3 separate regions of the Homo sapiens genome follow, and all the other regions are linked to region 1. Evidence: fine-mapped expression QTL. A gene starts in region 1. Each other region holds a variant in brackets. All regions are shown on one strand. Distances are between the middles of the regions.

Region 1 (8,180 bases):
AGGGGGATACATTTTTCTCCAGCCACACTGTGTTACTCATGTTCAGGTGAAGAGCAGGCAGAGAATAACCAGGGCTGGGATTTTTCCAGAGTACTGAGGAGAAAAAGGCAAGGGAGATAGATGAGGGCGTCCATTATAGAGTGCAGCAGTGGACCTCATGGATGGAATCTAAGCTAGTTAAGAATGAGATGAATCTAAATCAACAACACTTCTATTTAATAGCAATTCAAAAACCCTTTTGCTCTCAATTAAAAATTATTAATATTTTAGATATTTAATTTTTAAACATCTTGCCAACTGTGATGGCTTCTTCAGATCACTAAATGTCACCAACATTCACCTTGTTACACAGGCCAAAAGTCTGATGGCCTGTGACTTGATGACTTTTTCACAGTACAACAGCAAAAGCCGTTCTCCTTTGAAAATATACTCTGGACCTAACTACTTCTCAGCACCACTACGACCCCAGGGCTTGTGCTTGCACCATTCCATTGCTCATCCTTTGTTATCTACTTTTCCACTCAGAAGCCAAAGAACTTCCAATTTAAATCAGCTGAAGCCCTTCCTTTCAACCATTCAACGCCTCTTGGTCACACCTGGAAAAAAAATCCACATCCTGGCCATGGCCCGTAAGATCCCACATGACCCAGCTCCCGGGTTGCTCTCTGATCCACTCTCCACCTCTCTGCCATGCCCAGCCACACTGGCCTCTGTCACACTCTTCAGTCTTGCCAAGCACACTGGCATCTCAGGACCTTTGTGCCTGCTGTCCCTGGAAAAGTCTCTCCTCAAAAGGTTCATGCAATTTGCTCTCATTTCATTCAGATCTTGGCTCAAATGTCAATTCCTCACAGAAACCTTCCCTGACCATCCATCTAAAAACACCAATATGCCAGGACCTTTTCTCCTTTCTTGGCTTCACTTTTCTTCAAAGCACTTTTCATTACCTCCTATTACAATCCTATTTTTCTGTCTTCCCCAAGAACGTAATGTCCACGAGGGATTTTCTGTTTTGTTCACCATTGTGTCCCAGGTGCCTACAATAGTGCATTTCACATGTGGTAAGCATCAATAAATATTTATTCAATAAATGAGTCGTTTTTTAGTCTTCTTTTTGTGCATTTAAAAAATATATTTACCCAGTAGTACAAGAATATAATTTATAAATAAAAAATATACTAGGGAGACACACTCAAACATTTTTTACCGAAGGGGTATATAGTAAAAAGGAAAGAAAATTCTGACAATCACAGATGTAACCAATCAACAAGCCAGCACACATGCCCTAAGGAGAACGTCATGGAGAGCCTGTCACTCACTCTCTCAGGAGACTTTGGTCATCTCCAGCTGCTCCTCGCAAGAAGAAAAAACTCCCCATATGGGGTTAAGGCCTTCAACCAACAATTCTGTCCTCTGTCCTTATGTTCCTCTGGAATATTTTGCTAGAAATGAATGGATTGTTTGTTCTGATACAAAGAAGGGTTGATTACTTACTGGTCCTACGCAATTGAGGACAACTGTTGCCTGTTTAGCCATTTCATCAAGCGAGGCTGGATTAGCAATATCACAGATGATGATTCCAACTTCAGATGACAGTGTTGGTCTTCCTAAAATAAGAAACAAATGAAGGAAAGTAAATCCCAGTAGAGGATTATATCTTCCTTATCTTCTTTTTACAGTAATCAGTGACAGCAAATTACTAAATACACTGATATGCTGAAAGCTAGCTCTCCTGCTTAGACAAAAGATAAAACTGTTTTTAATCAGGTAATACAAAAGGAAAAAATTATGAGGAAAACTGAGTTAACACTAAGAGTTACTAAAAAACTGACCTTTTAAAAAAAATCGAATCAAAGCGTTGTGTAAATAACAACCCTGTGTAACATGACAATTTCACAATCAAGTTTAAATGCTGAGCAGATAACTATCCAGACTTCCTCTCCAACAAGAAATTTATGTCATAAAATAGTTTCTTGGCCAGGGGCAGTGGCTCAGCACTTTGGAAGGTCAAGGTGCAAGGATCTCTTGACCTCAGGAGTTCCAGACCAGCTTGGGCAACATAGCAAGACCTTGTCTCTACTAAAAAAAAAAAAAAAATTATCTGACATGGTGGCATAGCCTGTAGTACCAGCTACTCAGGAGGCTGAGGCGGTAGAATCACTTAGACACAGAGGTCAAGGCTGCAGTGAGCTGTGATCACGCCACTGTACTCCAGCCTGGGTGGCAGAATGAGAACTTGTCTTTAAAAAAATAAAGTTTCTCATCAACCACTAAACAATTACTATGATCCAATTGTAGGTGATGGAGAGTTTCGGACTGACTGTTAACATCAAAACCATCAGGGCTGGGTGCAGTGGCTCACGCCTGTAATCCCAGCACTTTGGAAAGCCGAGAAGGGTGGATCACGAGGTCAGCAGATCGAGACCATCCTCACTAACACGGTGAAACCCCGTCTCTACTAAAAAAATTAGCAGGGCGTGGTGGCGGGCGCCTCTAGTCCCAGCTACTCAGGAGGCTGAGGCAGGAGAATGGCAAACAAACAAACAAAAAACAAAAAATTAGAACTCTGAGGTGAAAAGCACACGCTATATAAACACACACAGGCTCATAAGAAAATAATTGGAATTAACTGGCTCAACTAAGTGATGCAGGTTTCAATAGGTGAAGGTATATCCCCCCACAATGAAACTTGATTTGGGCATTATATATGATAAGTGACTAGGCTGTACCGGTACGATCTTGCTGAGCCGAAAAAAGAAATGGAAGCATATATTTTCATAGTAAAATTACTTCTGTTGGAAAAATAACGACCAAAAAGCTCTTTGGTCAGAATTACGTGTTGGTAGTGTCAGCACCAAAAGCTGTAGGAGAGTCCAGCCTACGTGGTGTCTTCTGTACATAACCACGAACAAAAGCACTCCGAGCAGGGCATTGTATGAAAGTAGATTAAACAGAAAGAATGTAGTATTTCCAGAACTCTAATGGGTGTCTGTATAAGGGAAATCTACGGGAGTTAATAGCCAAATTTAAAGGCTACGGAGTCGTAAGTCAGATGTCTCCCCAGCCATGAAGGCAGCAGGATCCGTGTGTCTGTCTCCTCTCTGTCCCATCCTGCACCCCAGACTCGGGACAGGTCTTAGCATGGACAACGTCACTCAATAAATATATGCTCCTTCAATGCTTAGAGAATCAATAAATATATGCTACCTGAATGCTTAGATTATCAATAAATATATGCTACCTGAATGCTTAGATTATCAATAAATACATGCTACCTGAATGCTTAGAGAATACGTAAGCGTCTAAACCAGAAATACACACTTTTTATTCTCTGAAGAGGAAGACTGCTGGAGTATTCTTACACACAAAACAAGAAACTAAAACAGAATAGCCACAAAGACACTGTCAGTACAACTCGTAAGCTTGCTCTCCCGTCCTCAAAACACGAGGCAAAGGGAGACTCCGATCTCCAAGAGACCAAAGCCCTCCTCTCCTCTCCGACCAAACATCTAGAAACCCGCAGATTCAACAGGTGCCCCCGCTGCGGGGCAGGATGAAGCAGAGAGAGGGACAACTCAAGTTCTTGACCATTTCGCCAGGGGAGCTCCCCAAACTGAGGCAGAAATGCAAAAAGCGGGAAAGAGGAGAAGGAAAGAAAAAAAAATGTGTGTGTATATTATACACGCACGCGCACACACACATATAGTTAAGGAGGTGGGACAAAGCTATGGCAGTATTTGAAACATCTCTCCCTCTCCTCTTCTTGTCCTCACGCAGGGCTCGGGGACACGTAGGGCGCATCCCTGCGGGAGAAACGCTCGTTTGGGGCGATGCGGGGTCCCCGGCCCAGCCGCCCGCGCAGCCCCGTCCCGCCCCGCCGCTGTACCCAGCTTCAGGGCCGCCTTCTCCAGCACCCGCTGCAGCTTCTCCCGGGAGCGGCCCGCCACGGCCCAGGGCAGGCGGGAGCTCCGCTCCGGGTCCACCTGCTCCCGGGCCACCTCCTCGGTCACGAACTGGCCGGTGAAGCCAGACGCGCCGAACACCACCAGGTGGAAAGGCCTCTGCTCGGTCGCCATGACGAGTCCACAGCGAGCCCAGGCCCCGGGGCGGGTGGAGTCCACGGCGCCTGCGCCTCAGGCAGCGACCCCAGTACCCGGCGCAGCAACGGCCGCCGTCGCCGCAGCCAGCGCGCCGGGCTCCCTTCACCCCGCGCGCGCCGCCGCGCCAGGGCCGCGCCCACGCCCACGCCGCCTCGCGCGGGAGCCGCGGGTGAGCGGCTTGCTTGGGAGGCTTCCGACGGGAGGTTTCCTAGGGCGGTGGCCCTGGGGGCGAGTCCGCTTCCAAGCCTGGCAGGCGCGGACGGCGGCCCCTAATTCCGTGCGGCGGTTTGTTCTGCAGGGCTCTGGCCGCCCCGGGCAGCGCATCTTCTAGCCCTGCTGGAAGCTGGAGGCGGCAGCCGGTTGTCCTTGTTGCACGTGGGGGTGGAGCAAAGAGTGCGAGAAAATCTGCGGATGGCCTCGGGGATGGCCCACCCCGAGAACCCTTGAGCTTGCTTGCTTTCTTCCTTTCTTTCTTCCCTTTTTTCCCTTTCTTTTCTCTTTTCTGTTTTTGAGATGGAGTCTCACTCTGTCGCCCAGGCTGCAGCGCAGTGGCGCGATCTCGATTTACTGCAACCTTCGCCTCCTGGGTTCAAGCGATTCTGCCTCAGCCTCCCGAGTAGCTGGGATTACAGGGGAGCGCCCCCACGCCCTGCTAATTTTTGTGTTTTTAGTAGAGATGGGTTTTCACCTTGTTGGCCAGGCTGGTCTCGAACTCCTGACCTCAGGTGATCCACCCACCTCGGCCTCCCAAAGGGTCGGGATTACACGCATGAGCCACTGCACCCAGCCCATTCCTGATTTTTAAAAACTCTCATTAAAATAGGAATAAATGAATGCTTTTAAAAATTTTGAAATATATGTCTTGCAAAAAAGGTACAGCCAATAACAAATATGTACCCTCAACACAGCTTAAGAAAAATATTCCAGATAGCGAGGCTTCCAGGTATTCATTCCTGAACACATTTCCTTTTGCGTCCCCAAGACGGCCACTTGCCTGAATTTAGTGTTTATTATTCCTATTCCTATCTTTCTGCTTGTTATATATGTATGTATTTATAAATATTATAGTACCGTTTTGCATATTTTGAATATTTTGTAAATGTCAATCCTGCAGCTTTCTTATTTGGTCATGATGTCGTGAACTTATTCCCAAATGATTCAGAATAAAAAAAAATGTCTGTGATACGTGTGTGGAGAGAGGGAGAGAGAGAGAAATACACCAAATTCTACAATGCTTTTGTACAATGTTGTATAGTGCTTTTGTGCAATATAATACAAAGAATGCTACAATAAAATTCTTGTACCTTTCTCCTAAAGCACCTGTGCGAAAGTGTATTGAATATGTGTCAGGAATGAAAATGGTTGGTGCTAGAATATCCATATTTGAGTTATCTCACTGCTCTTTAAAGCACATGCACTAATTTTCGCTCTCAGCGGGATACAAGAATCCTCTTGCTTTACGTGCTTGTCAGCACTTGGTATTCTCAGACTTCATGCTTGTCCATCTGGTGGGTGTAAAGTAGTAAGCATTCAAGTATTTATTAAACACTTAACTATATACTGGGCACTAGGAATAAAGTACTGGGGATATGGCAACAAATAAAGCCCCTGCCCTCAAGAAGTTTACATTCTAGTGGAGTAAACAGTCACTAAAAAATAATCTTACAGAGCCAGGTACAGTGGCATGCACTTTTAGTCCCAGCTACTTGGGAGGCTGAGGCAGGAGGATTGCTTGAACCTAGGAGTTGGAGGTTATAGTGAGCTACACTCCAGCCTGGGTGACAAAGTGAGATATTGTCTCTAAAAAGAAAATAAAAACAAAAGAAAACAAAAAACCCTAAAAAAACAGAATATATATATATATATATATATATATATATATATATATATATATATTTTGTTTTTTGGGAAGCATGCTTGCTATGGTTTGGATGTTTGGCCCCCCCAAATCACATGTTGAAATGTAATCCCCAGCATTGGAGGTGGGGCCTGGTGGGAGATGTTTGGGTCATGGGGGTGGATCCCTCATGAATGGCTTGGTGCCATCCCCAGGATAATGAGTATGTTCTCTCTGCATAAGTTCATACAAGAGCTGGTAGTTGAAAGAGCACTCATCCTTCTCTCTCTTGGTCTCTCTCTCACCATGTGATACATTGGCTCCATTTCACCTTCTGCCACGATTGGAAGCTTCCTGAGGCCTCACCAGAAGCAGATGCTGGCACTACACTTGATGTACTTCCTGCAGAACCATGAGCCAAAATATAAACTTTTTTCTTTATAAATTAACCAGCCTCAGGCATTCCTTTAAAGCAACGCAAAAATGGACTAACATAATGGTCATTGCAGCATTGCTTTGTAATAACAAAAAGTAGAAATAACTGAAATGTCCTTTATCAGAGGAATTATTAAATAAATTATGGTGTCCTATTCATTCAATAGGAACTGTGCAGCTATAAAGAATGAAGAATGACTATTCAGGTGGTTCTAGGTAAAAAACACACAACAACAACAAAAACAAAAGAATGAAGTAGGCTGGGCACAGTGGCTCACGCCTGTAATCCCAGCAGTTTGGGAAGCCAAGGCAGGAGGATCACTTGAGTCCAGAAGTTTGAGACCAGCCTAGGCAATGTAGCAAGACCCCATTTCTTAAAAAAAAAAAAAAAAAAAAAAAAAATTTTTTTTTTTAATTAGCTGGGTGTGGTGATGTGCATCTGTAGTCCTAGCTACCTGGGAGGCTGAGGTGGGAAGATTGCTTGAGCCCAGGAGTTCGAGGTTACAGTAAATCATGATCACACTACTGCACTGCAGCCTGGGCAACAGAGCAAGGCTATGTTTCTAAAAAAAAAAAAACAAAACAAAACTGTGTATAGTGACACGGAAAATCTTCCAAATTTCCTAACATTACAAGAGTATATTTAAGACAAAACAATGTATGTATATGCACACAAAATGTTAAGAATACATGATAAATCTTTTTTTTATTATACTTTAAGTTTTAGGGTACATGTGCACAACGTGCAGGTTAGTTACATATGTATACATGTGCCATGTTGGTGTGCTGCACCCATTAACTCATCATTTAACATTAGGTATATCTCCTAATGCTATCCCTCCCCCTTCCTCCCACCCCACAACAGGCCCCGGTGTATGATGTTCCCCTTCCTGTGTCCATGTGTTCTCATTGTTCAATTCCCACCTATGAGTGAGAACACGTGGTGTTTGGTTTTTTGTCCTTGTGATAGTTTGCTGAGAATGATGGTTTCCAGTTTCATCCGTGTCCCTACAAAGCACATGAACTCATCATCTTTTTATGGCTGCACAGTATTCCATGGTGTATATATGCCACATTTTCTTAATCCAGTCTAACATTGTTGGACATTTGGCTTGGTTCCAAGAATTGCTATTGTGAATAGTATTGGGGAACCTGCCCCGATATTCACGTAGGTTCTTTTCTATTTTCCCTAAGTGTCGGCCAGCTTGAGAAATAAAGGGACAGAGTACAAAAGAGAGAAATTTTAAAGCCAGGCGTCTGGGGGAGACATCACATGTCAGTAGGTTCTGTGATGCCCCACAAGCCGCAAAAACAAGCAAGTTTTTATTAGGGATTTTCAAAAGGGGAGGGAGTGTGTGAATAGGTGTGGGTCACAGACATCAAGTACTTTACAAGGTAATAGAACATCACAAGGCAAATGGAGGCAGGGCGAGATCACAGGACCACAGGACCGAGGCAAAATTAAAATTGCTAATGAAGTTTCGGGCACCACTGTCATTGATAACATCTTATCAGGAGACAGGGTTTTGAGATCAACTGGTCTGACCAAAATTTATTAGGCGGGAATTTCCTCTTCCTAATAAGCCTTGGAGCCCTATGGGAGACTAGGGTCTATTTCATCCCCTGCAGTCTCAACCATAAAAGACAGGTGCACCTGGGGGGGGGCTGTTTATAGGCCTATACCTCCAGGTGCGTATTCTCTTTCCCAGGGATGTTCCTTGCTGAGAAAAAGAATTCAGTGTTATTTCTCCCATTTGCTTTTGAAAGAAGAGAAATATGGCTCTGTTCTGCCCGGCTCACCGGCACTC
Region 2 (8,180 bases), 62 kb before region 1:
CCTTTCAGACAGGACAGGCAGATGGGGATTGGCCGCTCCCCATTTGGAAAGCCCCCTCAGTGACCTCCCTCGGCCTCCTGTCCCTGGCCACACTGCCCTTCTTTTGGTTGTTCAGCAGCCGTCTCTGCCTCACCAAGACTTACCGCCCAGGAGGGCTTAGCTTGGGCATCACGCCTCGGAAAAGGCCGTCTGTAGCCTGTAGTCTGAGTTAGGTCCTGGTGTCCCCTGCAGCCATTGCTGCACTCACCCAGACCAGCCTGGAAAGCGTGGAGGGAGGGCCTGGCTCTGGGTGGTCCCCACAGAACCCCAGGGCCAAGGGAGTCACGCCCTCAATGTGTGCAATGAAGGTGAACGCAGGAGCCAGAGGCCACCTCCCTCCTGTCTGCGTCTCTCCCTGTCTGGGGGATTCCTGAGGGGAGGACATTCCTCAGATCCTTCTCACTGGGGAGGTTCACCTCACCCTCCTTGGCCTCGAACCCCTCCTGAGCCCACCGTCTCCTCCCCAGGACCGCCTGATTTTGGGATCCAACAGCACCTACCTGTACGTGGGGTTTCCTTCGGAGTGGGGCAGTGAGGACCTGAGCAGGTTCGATTACGACTTCTTCCAGCTGGAGAGGGCGGCTGCGGAGGGAGCGAGTGCAGACAAACTCGGTGAGCCCCCTCCTGACTGCTGGCCTCTCCCGTGTGCTGATCTGAGAGCAGCGATTTCACACTGTGTCTCTCTGCTTTCCTTAAGAACATCATCATTTGTTTTGTCAAAGTCTGATGTTTACAAAATTGAATTATGATTTCCATATAGAGTGACTACATGGTAAACATTCAACTCGTTAAACGTTCCCTGAGGAATGAGGGTAAAGATGGTTCAAAGGGGTAGAGAAGAGAGTGGGGTACCCAGCAAATGAGAGAAGAATGCTGAGCTGGAGAAGCCAGTTAGTGGCCTCCGGCCGCCCCCAGGGGCCTGCTGGGCCTGCAGAAGCAGTGGCCCAACTCCAGAGGGGCCGGCTGGGGCCTGCTGTGGGCTGCAAATGCGCGGCCCGGAAGAACGTGCAGCCCGAGGCCTCTGAGACAGAATCTCCCCTCCTCGCCCGAACGCAGCCCCCAGCAGTAGCCCACGCGGGCCGCCCGCCGCTGCCGGTCTCTGCTGGGGCTTTCGCGCGCCTTCCCCGCCCCTCTCCCCGCCCCGATTCACCGCGCTCCGGGCGGCTCCCCCAGAATCCTGGCCAGGCCGGAGCCCGCTGCGATCTGAGTGACCTGCGGGCTTCCCGGAGGGGCCCCACGCTTTGCTCGGCACCGGGACTCTGCCTGAACTCGCAGTAATGAAACCGCTGGTGGAAAGTGGGCAGATCCACCTGTGTGTGTGCAAGAGCTCCTCCCTGTCCCCACACCACAGTGTTTCTCTCAGAATTTCAGCAAAATAAATCGATTAGAAATTCACCTCCTTGCTCTTCTTCTGCTGAAGTTTTCGACTTTTAAAAATGAACAAGGCCGGGCGCGGTGGCTCACGCCTGTAATCCCAGCCCTTTGAGAGGCCGAGGCGGGCAGATCACGAGGTCAGGAGATCGAGACCATCCTGGCTAACACAGTGAAACCCCGTCTCTACTAAAAATACAAAAAAGTAGCCGGATGTGATGGCACACACCTGTAGTCCCAGCTACTCAGGAGGCTGAGGCAGGAGAATTGCCTGAACCTGGGAGGAGGAGGTTGCAGTGAGCTGAGATCGTGCCACAGCACTCCAGCCTGGGTGACAGAGCGAGACTCCATTTCAAAACAAAACAAAACAAAACAAAACAACGAACCAGTAAGACTCTGTCATACCAGGCCCGGAAAAGCCATCTGTTCATTGACCTGTCCTCAGAGGTTGACCGTGCCACTGCCCCTGTGGCCCTGGTGGCGCCATGAAGCTGAACCAGCCCCAGACCCTGGCTCGGACCCTAGGGAAGACTTGGGTCCCCAACAAGGCAGCAGCTGTGTGAGCAGTTTGGGGTCAGACCTCAGGGCCAAGGGCACTGTGTGCACCCACAGGCCAGGGGTCTCTAAGAGTTGAGATTTCCTGATTAGAGGCAGTACCAGCCTGGGTTTGGGAGGGAGATTGATCCTCCCATAATCTCCACGAGCCCCTCCTTCAAGCCACCCCAAGTATAAGAGAAGCACAGGTCACTTGCTGTGCCAGCAGCAGCTTGAGGATACCTCCAGGCCTTCCGTCTAGCCAGCCATGTTTCACCTCGCCCCACCCTCCTCCAGTCTGGAGCCACCTTGGGTCAAGGACCCTGAGACCAAGAATGGGAACTGGGGGCAGAGGACCTCCTGCCTGCGGCCAGGATTCATGGGTCGAGATAAGCAACCACGTAAGGAGAAGCCAGGCAGTGTCATTTTCCCTTGTTTGTTTTTAAATTACATGCTTGTAATTTTAAAATGTAGATATTTGATGAACAGCTGAACAAATGAATGAACAAATAAGCATACACATTTATTCATGGCGGCTGGGCGTGGTGTCTCATGCCTGTAATCCTAGCACTTTGAGAGGCCAAGGCAGGAGGATCGCTTGAACCTGGGAGTTCAAGACCAGCCTGGGAAACAAAGTGAGACCTCATCTCTACAAAATATTTTAAAAATTAGCCAGGCATGGTGGCTTGCACCCGTAGTCCCAGGTACTCAGCAGGCTGAGATGGGAGGATTGCTTGAGTCTGGGAGGTGGAGGCTGCAATGAGCAGAGATCATGCCACTGAACGCTAGCCTGGACGACAGAGCAAGACAGCTGTCTAAAAAAAAAAGAAAAAGGGCTTGGCATGGTGGCTCATGCCTGTACGCCTGTAATTCCAGCACTTTTGGAGGCCGAGGTGGGCAGATCACCTGAGGTCAGGAGTTCGAGACCAGCCTGGCCAACATAGTGAAACCCCATCTCTACTAAAAATACAAAAATTAGCCGGGTGTGGTAGTGCGCACCTGTAATCCCAGCTACTCAGGAGGCTGAGGCAGGAGAATTGCTTCAACTTGGGAGGCAGAGGTTGCAGCGAGCCGAGATGGCGCCACTGCACTCCAGCCTGGGCAACGAGAGTGAAACTCTATTTCAAAAAAAAAAAAAAAAAAAAATTCTTCATGGCGGAACAAGTGACTGACTTTCGCCTCCACTGTGATTGTTGCCAGGTGCTGCGGACGGTGGAGACGGCAAGGCGGGCCCCAGTGTCCTGGCTGCGTTCCAGGACTACATCAAACTGATGCCGCTGGTTCAGAAGCAAATCAAATGAGTGAAGAGCCAAAGAAGGTAAGTTAGCTGGAGCCAGGAGCTGGTGTGCCAGGTGCAGAAAGGACCTCAAGGCCTTGTGGGGCAGGGGTGCGTTCCCAGGGACTCTCAGGGAACTAGCCACAGAAGCCAGACTGCCCAGCCCAGGCCCGAGTACCATTCCTTTCACCAACAGCCTACCAGGGCCACCGGGATCCCAGACCAACTCTTGCTGGCCATGAGCAGGCCCTCCCAGATGGTCCTGGGGCCTCTCCGGGTCTAGGCACCCTGATGGCTGCTGTGCCACACAGACCACCTGGGCTGGGGACAGCTCCCTGGAGACGTGAGCTCCCATCGGCCGGAACCTTGTAAGAGATTTAATCAATTTGGTAGGGACTCCAAGTGTTAGTTCCAGGATATAATGGAGAAAATCTGGTGCTCTGTCTTTCCTCTTAGTGGGAAATCCAAGGGGCAAGAGTGGGACATCTTAGAGAGAGTCTTATTCATTCATCATTTAGGAAGCCCGAGGGTGGGAGAATGAAAAATAAATTGCAAAGGTGGTATGAGCTGTGAATGTAGGATTTTTTTTTTCTTTTTGACAGGGTCTCAATCTGCCGCCCAGGCTGGAATGCAGTGGTGCAATCATGGTTTACTGCAACCTCCACTTCCCGGGTTCAAGTGATCCTCCCACCTCTGCCTCCCAAGTAGCTGGGATTACAGGTGTGCACTTCCATGCCTGGCTAATTTTTGTATTTTTAGTAGAGATGGGGTTTTGCTATGTTGCCCAGGCTGGTCTTGAACTCCTGGGCTCAAGCGATCCACTCGCCTCAGCCTCCCAAAGTGCTGGGATTACAGGCATGAGGGACTGTGCCCAGCAGAATGTAC[A/G]ATTATTTAGTGAGAAGTGTTTCTTTTACCAGGGACTTAACATGGAATTGAAGGTGAAAAATTTGGCATCGTCAGATTCCAGGGGCTATGACCTACAGAAGGAGGTCTTGGTGAAGGTGACCCACCACGGGTCTCACGAGGTGAGGCCCCACAGGGATGGGACTCAGGAGGTGAGGATCCATGGGGATGGGACTCAGGAGGTGAGGATCCACGGGGACGGGACTCAGGAGGTGAAGATCCATGGGGACGGGACTCAGGAGGTGAGGATCCACGGGGAAGGGACTCAGGAGGTGAAGATCCATGGGGACGGGACTCAGGAGGTGAAGATCCATGGGGAAGGGACTCAGGAGGTGAGGATCCACGGGGAAGGGACTCAGGAGGTGAAGATCCATGGGGACGGGACTCAGGAGGTGAGGCCGCACGGGGACGGGACTCAGGAGGTGAGGATCCACGGGGACGGGACCCAGGAGGTGAGGATCCATGGGGACACAGGTTATCTTTACCAGCTGCAGCCTCCGGAGACCCAGTCAAGGGCAAAACGTATTCCAAGTATGAGCTGGAGCTCTGGGGAACAGGGGGATCCACTCTCCCGTTCCCTGTCCTGGGTCCTCCCTCCCAGCACCAGCCATTCCCTGTCCTGCACCCTCCCTCACAGCACCAGCTCCTGGGAGCGTTCCTAAGCTAGCCTGCACTGAGCATCTGTTCATGCTGAGTATGACTCAAAGGCTTTTGTACCAGAAGGGAGCCTGGGAGTTTATACAAGTGGTAGTGGTGTCTGTCCATGCACGTAGGTGCGTGTGTGTGTGTGCAAGTGTGTGTTTGTGTGTACATGTGCCCGTGAGAACACAGACTGCCTTTCTGCAGCAATGAGAAAAGCAATCCTCCTAGGGACTCCAGAAAAGGCTGTTTCACCAACTCCACTGGCTGGACCTTACTATCAGGAAATTCCATTTTAGAAACTTAAGACCCTGTTTCCTCTCCCTCTGCCTCCAAAGGAGGAAACAGAAATGCAGGCCCATCTTGCAGCACCCCTTGTGCATATCAGGCCCCTGGAGGAGCAGCCCTCAGGCTTCCGGCTCCAGCACACTCACCCGTTGCCTTTCCAGACTGCGCCTCCGGCCCCCACCCCGGGCTGCTCCCTCCCTGCTCAGCAATTGAAGCTTCTCTGAGTTTCACTTTTCTGCTCATCTGCTCATCGCCCGAAAATTGCCAAAATGTTCTGGGCCGAGACCGATTTTTGTAAAGCTTTTAAAAATTGTGAAATGAGCTAAGACTATAAGCATGTGTGTGCGTCCCATGTGGTCAGCACCTGTGCACTGCATCCACCACCCCGTCCACGGGGTTTCGCCCTCCAGGTGCTGGGGCTGCCAAGATGCTGCCCCAGGGAGGAAACCAAGCAAGGATCCTCCTGGAGCCCAGCTCCTCAGAGACCGGCCCCTTTCCTGCAGGTCTGTGTGATGCAGACAGGGTCTCCCGTGAGACCCTCACCCTAGGGAGTCAGCATGGACTTCTCTGCCATGTTCCGTGAGGCCTTGGAGGGGACCCCTCAGTGTGTTTGTACTTTGCATTTTTCTTTTTTTTCCAGCAAAGGCCACTGGGGCAAAGTGGCTCTGGTGCCCCGATATTCCACGTGCCTCTTTCGGGCCAGGCTTTCCCCTAGAATTTGGCTTGGCAGTTTCCTGTCTTGTCAGACCTTGTTTTAAGAAAATTTGTAATTCTAAAAAACCATTTTCCATGCTATTCTATTTTGTATTATAGTCCAAGGTAGTTCGAAAAATAGCCTTTTAAACTGTTGCTAACAGAAGGGTTATTGAGTGCACACGAAGACACTCATGAGCACCTGCCTGTCATTACCAGAAACAGAACAGGAGACGGTGTTCTCACACTTATCATTGGGAGAATTGTATGGGAGGGCTGAGGGCCTGGATTCATGCCCTCATTTTCCTTCAGCCCAGCATCCTGTCACTGGGACAGGTAGCTGTCTGATAGGACTGCTTCTGCTTAAACATACCAGGTTCTCTTTTAAGGGGGTCGTACAGTTTGTTTTTTTTTTTTTCTATTTTTTTTCTCATGAAGATATGAATCTTACCAATCTGTCTTCCTCAAGACTGTCCATTTTTACATTAAAACAGTAAGATTAGGCCCAGCACGGTAGTTCGCATCTGTAATCCCAGGATTTGGGGAGGCCGAGGTGGGTGGATGGCTTGAGCTCAGGAGTTTGAGACCAGCTTGGGCAACATGGTGAAACCCCGTCTCTACAAAAAATACAAAATTAGCTGAGTATGGTGGTGAGCACCTGTAGTCCCTGCTACTGGGGAGGCTGAGGTAGGAGAATCACCTGAGCCTGAGGAGGTCGAGGCTACAGTGAGCCGTGATCACACCACTATTCTCCAGCCTGGGCGACAGACAGAGACCCTGTCTCAAAAAAACAAGTAAGCTTAGTGCCAGTGACCTGTCTTCAGATGAAGCCCTGCTTTCCTCAGGAGGCTTCTGGGAGGCTGCAGCCTGAGAGTCTCCTGTGACATGGTATGTAGATGGAGGCTTCTGGAAGGCTGTAGTCTGAGGGTCTCTTGTGACATGGTGTGTAGATGGAGGCTTCTGGAAGGCTGCGGTCTGAGGGTCTCCTGTGACATGGTATGTAGATGGAGGCTTCTGGAAGGCTGTAGTGTGAGGGTCTCTTGTGACACGGTGTGTAGATGGAGGCTTCTGGAAGGCTGTGGTCTGGGGGTCTCTTGTGACACGGTGTGTAGATGGAGGCTTCTGGAAGGCTGTGGTCTGGGGGTCTCTTGTGACACGGTGTGTAGATGGAGGCTTCTGGAAGGCTGTGGTCTGGGGGTCTCTTGTGACACGGTGTGTAGATGGAGGCTTCTGGAAGGCTGTGGTCTGGGGGTCTCTTGTGACACGGTGTGTAGATGGAGGCTTCTGGAAGGCTGTGGTCTGGGGGTCTCTTGTGACACGGTGTGTAGATGGAGGCTTCTGGAAGGCTGTGGTCTGGGGGTCTCTTGTGACACGGTGTGTAGATGGAGGCTTCTGGAAGGCTGTGGCCTGGGGGTCTCTCTTGTGACACGGTGTGTAGATGGAGGCTTCTGGAAGGCTGTGGTCTGGGGGTCTCTTGTGACAGGGTGTGTAGATGGAGACGTCTGGAAGGCTGTGGTCTGGGGGTCTCTTGTGACAGGGTGTGTAGATGTTGGCAGTGCATGTGAGACAGGCACTTCCGAAGACTAGAAGAGCAGCAGAGACAGCTGTGGGTCCCAGCTAGAAACACGAATGCTACTTTGCGGTTGATCTTGTATGTGTTTACCTATCCTCCCTGCTGACCGTGTGGACGGTGACTGCTGCTGCAGCTCTCAGGGAGGACGCAGTGTTGTGCAGCTGTTGGGAGTCACATATCATAGACAAGCTCACGAGCAAACCAGGGCTGTGTGAGGGTTGGGGAGGGTTTTTTGACCTGGAAATGCTGCCAGCTTGCGGTTACCTTTCAGCAGTATTCACCCAACAGCTGTTGGCTCTGGTGAGCAGCACATCCTGCCAGGGAACTCTGAGCCAGGCCTGCAGAGCCCACCCGGGAGCAGGCGGGAGTCAGCATGGGCTCGCAGCCTATCCTGGAGCCTCGCCGACCTGTTTCCTCCTCAGGCCAAGGATGACATGCAATTTTAACTGACACCAGGCCTGTGGTCTGATATCCAGAGGTAATGAGGCAGTGAATTCATTTATTATTTAGATTCCCATGATCTTAGTTCCCTAAAGTCTTTAAGAAAAAAACAGAATAAGCCGGTGCAGGCGCACGCCTGCAGTCCAGCTACTCAGAGGCTGAAGCAGGAGGCCCGCCTGAGCCCAGGAGTTCAAGGCTGCAGTGAGCTAAGATTGAGCCACTGCATTCCAGCCTGGGTGACACAGCAAGATCACATGTCTTAAAAAGAAAAGAAAAACACAAACAGAAAAACCACAATGACTAGAACTCCTGTTGTTCCCTGCTGCCCCCATATTTTTTTTTTTTTTGAGATGGAGTCTTGCTCTGTCACCCAGGCTGGAGTGCAGTGGCGCGATCTTGGCTCCCTGCAAGCTCCATCTCCTG
Region 3 (8,180 bases), 31 kb before region 1:
TAAAAAGATATTCAGCAGCCAGATCTGAATCAAAAGACAAGGTTATAAAATACAAAATGTTCTACCCTAATGATTCTGTGTATTTCCAGAGGCTGAAACATGTATTACTTAGCTCTTCCTTTTTCTGCCTTATAAACAAAAATATCCCACACTGAATAGAAAGAGGAACTGTAACACACACTTTATTGATAAATAAACCATATATACTTACTGGTGATTCCTCTAAATTTTCATACAAGTAACGTTGAGTCCTCCTTACAACAGACACATCAGATCCCATAAAAGGAATGGAATAACCTTTGAGTTCCCGACAATAAGAAATTGGCCACCTGCAAGACAGACCTATGAATATTTTGCATTTCCTGCAATTACAACTTTGGCTGGTAAATGTCTGAATAAGCAAATCAGTGGCAGGGCATGGTGGCTCATGCCTGTAATCCCAGCACTTTGGGAGGCCGAGGCAGGAGGATCACTTAAGGCCAGGACTTTGAGACCAACTTGGGCAACAAAGAGAGACTCTGTCTCAAAAGAAAAAAAAAACCAGAACGCTCCTTTCAACAGCCCAACCCTAAATTCTTACCTCTAAACTTCTCACATATGTCCTGCAGTATAAAACTAAACTAAAATAAATTTTTAAAAAAGAAAAAAAGTTCTCACATAAAATTTAGTTGACAGTTAATTTCTATATTGATAGTGAAAAGTCATCATAAGATTCACTTATTTCCTAGGATTCACATGTTTTATTACACACGAAGTACTTAAGCTTATGGTAATGGATTAATTATGTCTTATTTATCTTAAGCTTATGGTAATGGATTAATTATATCTTATTTATCTCAAGCATATGGTAATGGATTAATTATATCTTATTTATCTGTGAAAACAATTCTGAACTTACTACAAATTAGTCTCCAAGCTTTTCTTAGTAACATACTTTATTAATAGCCAACCCAACAACAATATACTTAGACTAGATATATAAAAAATGGATTTTAAGTTAATTTACCTTCTCTTCAATTTTGGACCAATGAGCGGGACAGGTTTCAGATTTGATACATTTCTTAGTTTTCTCAAATTACTCTGATCTCCAAAACCATAAATTGCTGACTTCCAGGTACCATCATGAATGCTCAACCCCTAATAAAATATTTCAAGAGTTAAAGAAACATGAAAGGGTAGTTACTAAAATGTAAAGCCAAGTAACTTATCATTGTTACAAACAATATTTCACTTATATTTGGACAAGACATAATCCCTGATTTAATAATCTTGAGGAGAATTTTCATGACCAGCTAGGGAGCAGTCACATTCATTAGCTTGATCATACCCAATATTTACACCGAGAAGCCCTTTCTTCTCCCCTCCTATCATTCTTTATATTCTGTAATAAGTTATTTAGTTTTACTTCATCAATTTTACTCAACTAATTGACCATATTCCTTCAAGATCAGCCACTCTAATCCTTTTTTTTCTGCCCCATATGATCTGCAGGAATAGCCACCCTAATCCTCTCTCGATCCTACACAAATTCCTCAACATTTCTGGATATGTCCGTGTGCACATTTATGCATACATACACTGTGTACTGTCCATCTCTCCATCCTGTTACACCTGGTTCCCCGTCTACCTCCAACACCTCTTACTCTAGCCCCAAGTTATAGATCTGTCTTCCTACTGAAGTCTTAGTAAAATAATTGTTTAAAACATTTAAAGTTCACTAATAATGATTTGTATTTTAATTGCTTTCCTCAATCCCTTGATTTCTTTTTGGTATCACAGCCAGTACAGAGTCCTTAGTATTTGCCTGATCTTACTCAGACTCTCATTTATTCACTGATTTTTCATCCTTTCATGAGACTTTGGGCTGTCAGTGCCTTCCATTCTACCAATACTCTTTACAGCTTCCCCAACCCTTACCTCTAGCGCCACCGAGAAACGAGTGGCTGAGACCCCAGGAGAGGACACGACCTCTGAATTTACTATCACAGCGCTGGCCCTTTTTTTTTTTTTTTTTTTTTGAGACAGAGTCTTGCTCTTGTCACCCAGACGGGAGTGCAATGGCACGATCTCAGCTCACTGCAACCTCTGCCTCCTAGGTTCAAGCAATTCTCCTGTCTCAACCTCCCGAGTAGCTGGGATTACAGGTGCCCACCACCATGCCTGGCTAATTTTTGTATTTTTAGTAAAGACGGGGTTTCACCATGTTGGCCAGGCTGGTCTCGAACTTCTGACCTCAGGCAAGCCGCCCGCCTTGGCCTCCCAAAGTGCTGGGATTGCAGGCATGAGCCACCGCGCCCGGCCTAGCACTGACCTTTCTTTCCCAACCTCTAGGTGGGCCTTTTAATTCTCTATTACAGGAATAAACTTCATTTATTATATTGATTGTACATAATTGTATTATGTCCTTCCTTCTATGTTGTTTACATTGTTTAGGTCAACAGAGTAATTCAGAAAGATTCAAAACTAATTCTGTCACAAGATTTTCAAAGAGGGATATGTGGGAGGCAGATATGAAGGTACCTTTCATTGTTAATAAACAAAATAAGAGAAACAATAAAACCATCCAAAGATTCAGGTTTTCCTATCTCAGCTTTGATGATACTGAAAAGCAGAGATACCAAATCTAACTTTCATTCTGGTACAGATTTATTTCTTCTGTTTTATTAAAACTACAACAGAACTAAAGTCTTAAAGGTTTGATTTGTTATCTACTCAATCTGAGCCTAGCCAAAAGGGCCTATGTGAATCTCTACAAATGTAAAGATTCCAAACACCAGGAGAAAACAGCTTTTTAAAAATCTAAACATATTTTCTTATACAACTAAGCCATTGAAAAGGAAAAAATTACATTCAATTTAAAAAACTATTTGCGTTTCACAGAAAAATATAGAGACGTACCTAATACAATTTTATTAAATTGTATATTCATGTATGTTATGAAGCCAACGTACATGTAAACATCCAGGTCAAGAACTACAGGTAACCAGCAACTAAGAAGGCCCTCCTTCCGTCCTGCCTTTACAGTAATCAAGAAAAATTCTTTTCTTTAGAGTTTAATCACCTAAGAATTCATCCCTAAACAGTACAATTAGTTTTGCCTGTTTCTAAGCTCTACAGAAATGCAATCAAGCAAGATTTATTACTGAGTGTTTGGCTTCTTATGCTCAAAATTGTGATGTCAGGATTTACCACGTGTTGTAAGTAACTCCTACATTGCAGCTAGCCTTTTGACTTTCTTAATCGTGTGTTTTGGGAAACATTCTCAATTTTAAAAGTACACAAACGTATCACTTTTTCATTACATTTAATGCCTCTTTGTCTTTTTGTAAAAGCCATTCCCAACCGTGAGGGCATCCACAATCCATCTAAACTTGATTTTGGTACGGGGTGCAAAAGTATGAATCCAATTCCATTTTTTCTCCAAGTAGATACTCAATTGTCCCAGCAGCATCTACCGAAAAGCCCCCTTGCTGTTCCTGCCAACTTGAAGCCCGGAGGCCTGCTGGGAGGAGGAATTCTAAATGACAAGTATGCCTGGAAAGCTGTGGTCCAAGGCCGTTTTTGCCGTCAGCAGGATCTCCAGAACCAAAGGGAGGACACAGCTCTTCTTAAAACTGAAGGTATTTATGGCTGACATAAAATGAGATTTGATTTGGGCAGGAAATGCGCTTATGTGTACAAAGAATAATACTGACTCC[T/C]GGCAGCAAACCAAACAAAACCAGAGTAAGGTGGAGAAAGGTAACGTGTGCCCACGGAAACAGTGGCACAATGTGTGCCTAATTCCAAAGCAGCCGTCCTGCTTAGGCCACTAGTCACGGCGGCTCTGTGATGCTGTACTCCTCAAGGATTTGAACTAATGAAAAGTAAATAAATACCAGTAAAAGTGGATTTGTAAAAAGAAAAGAAAAATGATAGGAAAAGCCCCTTTACCATATGTCAAGGGTTTATGCTGACTTAATAACAGGTCTTGATCTCCAAGAGTGTCTTTCTGCCTTATTCTCTTTCAAGAATATCTTGCCTGTTCTCAGCCCTTTGAGTTTCCACATACATTTTAGAAACAGCTTGTCCAGATGCACATCGAAACAAAACAAACAAAAAAACCTGTTTGTGATTTTGATGGGAATTGCATGAGATTATAAACAAATTTGAAGAAAATTAACTACAAAATGGATTCATATTTTAATCCATGAATACGCTGGATCCTTCAATTTATGTCTTCTTTATGGTCCCTCAATAAAGGTTTACAGTTTTCTTCAAAGAAATCTTGTACACTTTCTATTACTTACTCTTAGGTACTTGATTTATTTAATGCTATCATAAATGGTGTTTTTTACAAAAATAATCACCTTCTAACTGTAGCTGGCATACAGAAATACAGCTGATTTTTATATTAATTTCATATCCAGGAACAATAAAAACTATTGTGGAAATAAATGAAACAGAATAGAAAAAATCAACAAAACTAAAAGTTGGTTCTTTGAAGAGGTCAACAAAACTGACACATTTTGGCTAGACAGACCAAAAAAAAGAGAAAGAAAACCCAAACTACTAAAATCAGGAATAAAAGAGGGAACATTATTACCAACCTTATAGAAATAAAAAGGAGTATAAAGGAATACTATGAAAAGTGTATGCCAACAAATTAGATAACCTAGGTGAAACGGACACATGTCTGCTCAGTGGATCACGACCCTCTCACACGGACCCCCTTAGAGTTGTAAGCCCTTAAAAGGGACAGGAATTGCTCACTCGCGGAGCTCGACTGCTGGAGACGTGAGTCTTGCCGAAGCTCCCAGCCGAATAAAGCCCTTCCTTCTTTAACTTGGTGTCTGAGGGGTTTTGTCTGCAGCTTATCCTGCTACAGCCTAGTTGAAAAAATTTATGTTCAAGTGCTATTTCTTTTGCGGCACTGAAAATTTACTTCTAACAAATTTGGGGGCCCGCCCGGGATTCCCATTCTCCTTTGGTGAAGGGTCTGGTCCTCTCCCATGAGGAGGCATGCCCCGCTGCCTTGTTGCAGTGGCCTCAGGGGTAAGGAATCAAGACCCACCGGGTGTGACAAATAAACCCGGACTCTCAGCAATGCAGAAAGAAACTGGCTGGCGACCTGGGGAAAGGGATCATCACACACCGCAGCGACCAGGTAACTCTGTGCACAGACCAAGGTAAGAAACACCACAGGAGCAGCCAAGCGTTTCCTCGGTGGTCGGGATACTCTGCGGGGGTTGAAAGTGTGTGTGAATGCGAGGAGCCTCCAGCAGGTGGGGCTAAAGGATAGGAGACACATCTCTAAGATGAGAGATGGGGCCTAACCAGGACCCAATATGGGAAATACCCCAAGCAAGACAGGGACCAAGAAGGACAAAGATAACAAGGATATTCCCCTTGAGTGCCCCCTAGGTCTCATGTTAAAATACTAGAAGGATAATGAAAGGACCAAAAACAAGAAAAAGCAGCTGCTGTCCCAGACCCTTCTCCTATCCCCATTGTCCCCCTCCTTATAACCCTGCCTCCTGGGAACTGTCCCAGGAGCCCACTCACTACGAGCGTTAAGTCCTCTTCCCTAAAAGGACTTCAGCGTGAGATAGAGCAATGTAAAAAGGATTTTCAGAACTTCCCTTTCCTCTCTTCTCGGGGGAAGAAAGAGCCACGATCCGTCGAACTGCTATGGGAGTCTTGGAACGTGAACACCCTTCTGGCCAAAACGTTCCTACAGCGGATCAAAAATTTCCCGCCCAAAACCTCAGGTGGGACAATAACAATGCAGCCCCTCAAGAAAATATGCAGGACCTTAGGGAATTGATAATAAAGGGGATTAAAGAATCAGTATCCCAGAATCTTACCCAAACATTTTATGTACAGCAAGGGAAAGATGAAGCACCTATAAAATTTTTTAGATTAAAGGAACAAATGAGAAAATATGCTGGTCTAGGTCTCGAGGATCCTCTTGGGCAGGGAATGTTAAAACTGCATTTTGTCACTAACAGTTGGCCAGATATTAATAAGAAATTACAAAAGATAGAGAACTGGAAAGATAAACCTATAGAAGAGCTTCTAAGAGAAGCCCAAAAAGTGTATGTAAGAAGAGATGAAGAAAAAAGCAGAAAGCAAAAATTCTGCTGTCTACCATACAACAAAGTACCCAGGGGGCCAGAACCTGTAAAGAACCTAGACCCCCACTCTCCAGGCAACATAAAGAGGATGAAAGAGTAAAGCCAGGAGACTCAAAGGTAGAGAAAAAAAATCCTAGAGGAGAAAGACTGACAGGGAACAGAAGGAGTCAAGGAGAGAGAAAGAGAGAGAGAGAGAGTCAAAGAAAAAGAGAGAGAGAGAAAGAGACAGAGAGGCAAAGAGAGAGAAAGAGACAGAGAGGCGGAGAGAGAGAGAGACAGAGACACAGACGAAGAGGCAAAGGGAGAGAAAGAGGACAAAACAAATGTTTCGAATTAAAAATAGGTCACTTCAAAAGACAATGTCCCAAATGGGAAAAAGAACAAAAGTCATATATAAAAGCAAATCAGTTCATATTAAATTTCTGTTAATTCCAGAGGCAGGAACAAACTTATCAGAGAGAGATTTAGTACTAAAATTTGGCTTACGCCTCTATATTGATTAGGGAAAATTCCTCCCCTCCCTAAACTTGCTCCCCACCGCAGACAAAGAACACATTCATCCCAAGGTATGGTCAAAAGACAGGAATCGAGGAAAGTTACAGATTCCTCCGATTCGTGTTAAATTAAAAAAATTAAAAACCCCTGGGGAAGTAGAAAAGAGAAAGCAATACCCTATTCCTTTAAAAGTGAGGGTAAATTTAAAACCTACAATTGATAATTGAAGGTCTTCTCTGTGACGGGCTGCTTAAACCCTGTATGTCTCCCTATAACACTCAAATTCTGCCTGTAAAGAAGCCAGATGGGTCATACTGGTTAGTGCAAGAACTTAGAGCTATTAATCAGATAGCCAAACAGACTACCGTTTCTTAGCTGTACAACTGGCCTGCTTTGCAGCTAGGGAAAACCTAGGACACATGGAGTTAAATGCTAGGAGAAGCCAGACCTCATCTGCACTTCTGTCTAGGTCCTAGGCTCTACACCTAGCACATAATTAAAATCCCAAACTTACAAGGTTTTCAACAAAAGTAAAGTTTGCTAAAAGTTAAGTCTAACATGTATGATCCTAACTTCTAATCTTGTGGCCTCAGGCAGTCTAGTCCACAGACATGAAGGCAGTGTGCTTTGGAAAAGAATGGTTATCATCTTTGACATTAAAAAAAAAGGAGAATTAGCCGGGCGCGGTGGCTCAGGCCTGTAATCCCAGCACTTTGGGAGGCCGAGGCGGGTGAAGCATGAGGTCAGGAGATGAGACCATCCTGGCTAACACGGTGAAAGCCCGTCTCTACTAAAAAAATACAAAAAAAAAAAAATTAGCCGGGCGTGGTGGCGGGAGCCTGTAGCCCCAGCTACTCAGGAGGCTGAGGCAGGAGAATGGCATGAACCCGGGAGGCGAGCTTGCAGTGAGCTGAGACTGCGCCACTGCACTCCAGCCTGGGCGACAGAGCGAGACTCCATCTCAAAAAAAAAAAAAAAGGAGAATTTATGTAAAAAGAATCTTATATGGTAAATTCTTGTCCTAAAGTAAATTAACTGGTTGTTTAAAGAAAGGGATATTTACGACAAGTCAGAAAGTTAAGGCATGTCAAAGGTCGTCTGTGAAAGTCGTGAAAAATGTTATAAAAGGGAATTTATGCAAGAAATGTCATATAATTGAAAAGTAATTAGGCCTCCTGAATGTAAAACTATTGAAGAAACAGTTTATGTGCAAGGTGTGTAAGGAAAGTAAAATATACTTTTGGTAAAAGGATTATAAGGAGGCATAAGAATGTGGATTTTTACCTACATTAAAAGGTTAAAAATTGTTTTGAAGGTTTAAGCAAGGTTTGAAAAGTTAATTGTAAAGGAAATTCTGTGTGTAAACATATTGGTTAAAGTTTCTGTAAACTGGACATTAAAATAAAAGCACAACAGGTTTTTCTTAAAGTACTAACCTGTTCTTTAACAAAAATTATAAAGGGTTAAAAAGAGTCTATAAAAAACTTATGGTCAGACATTAAAATTGGATAAATATGTCTAAAAGGTTTTATTAAAATTGAGTTTAACATTAATAGCACACTAATAGAAAGG

Evidence for each region.
Region 2: its variant is fine-mapped to the expression of SCCPDH in whole blood (TOPMed, PIP above 0.99).
Region 3: its variant is fine-mapped to the expression of SCCPDH in lung (TOPMed, PIP 0.98).

What each region holds. Positions count from the first base shown.
Region 1 is chr1:246,720,319-246,728,498 of GRCh38, reverse strand. It overlaps SCCPDH (saccharopine dehydrogenase (putative)), which reads right to left and starts at 4,090. Exons shown (of 12, transcript NM_016002.3): 1 at 3,887-4,090; 2 at 1,495-1,607. The coding sequence starts at 4,076. RefSeq lists silencers at 3,737-3,946, 4,047-4,116, 4,157-4,286 and an enhancer at 4,497-4,656.
Region 2 is chr1:246,782,058-246,790,237 of GRCh38, reverse strand. It overlaps LINC01341 (long intergenic non-protein coding RNA 1341), which reads right to left and starts at 621. Exons shown (of 2, transcript NR_015422.1): 1 at 540-621. It also overlaps the pseudogene KIF28P. RefSeq lists a silencer at 1,301-1,380 and an enhancer at 7,375-7,494. The variant A/G (reference allele first, on the strand shown) is at 4,106.
Region 3 is chr1:246,751,183-246,759,362 of GRCh38, reverse strand. SCCPDH (saccharopine dehydrogenase (putative)) reads right to left here. Exons shown (of 12, transcript NM_016002.3): 6 at 1,007-1,137; 7 at 212-329. It also overlaps the pseudogene RPL35AP6. Among named protein-coding and RNA genes, the nearest start is that of SCCPDH, 31 kb to the right of the region's middle. RefSeq lists a silencer at 5,191-5,341. The variant T/C (reference allele first, on the strand shown) is at 3,699.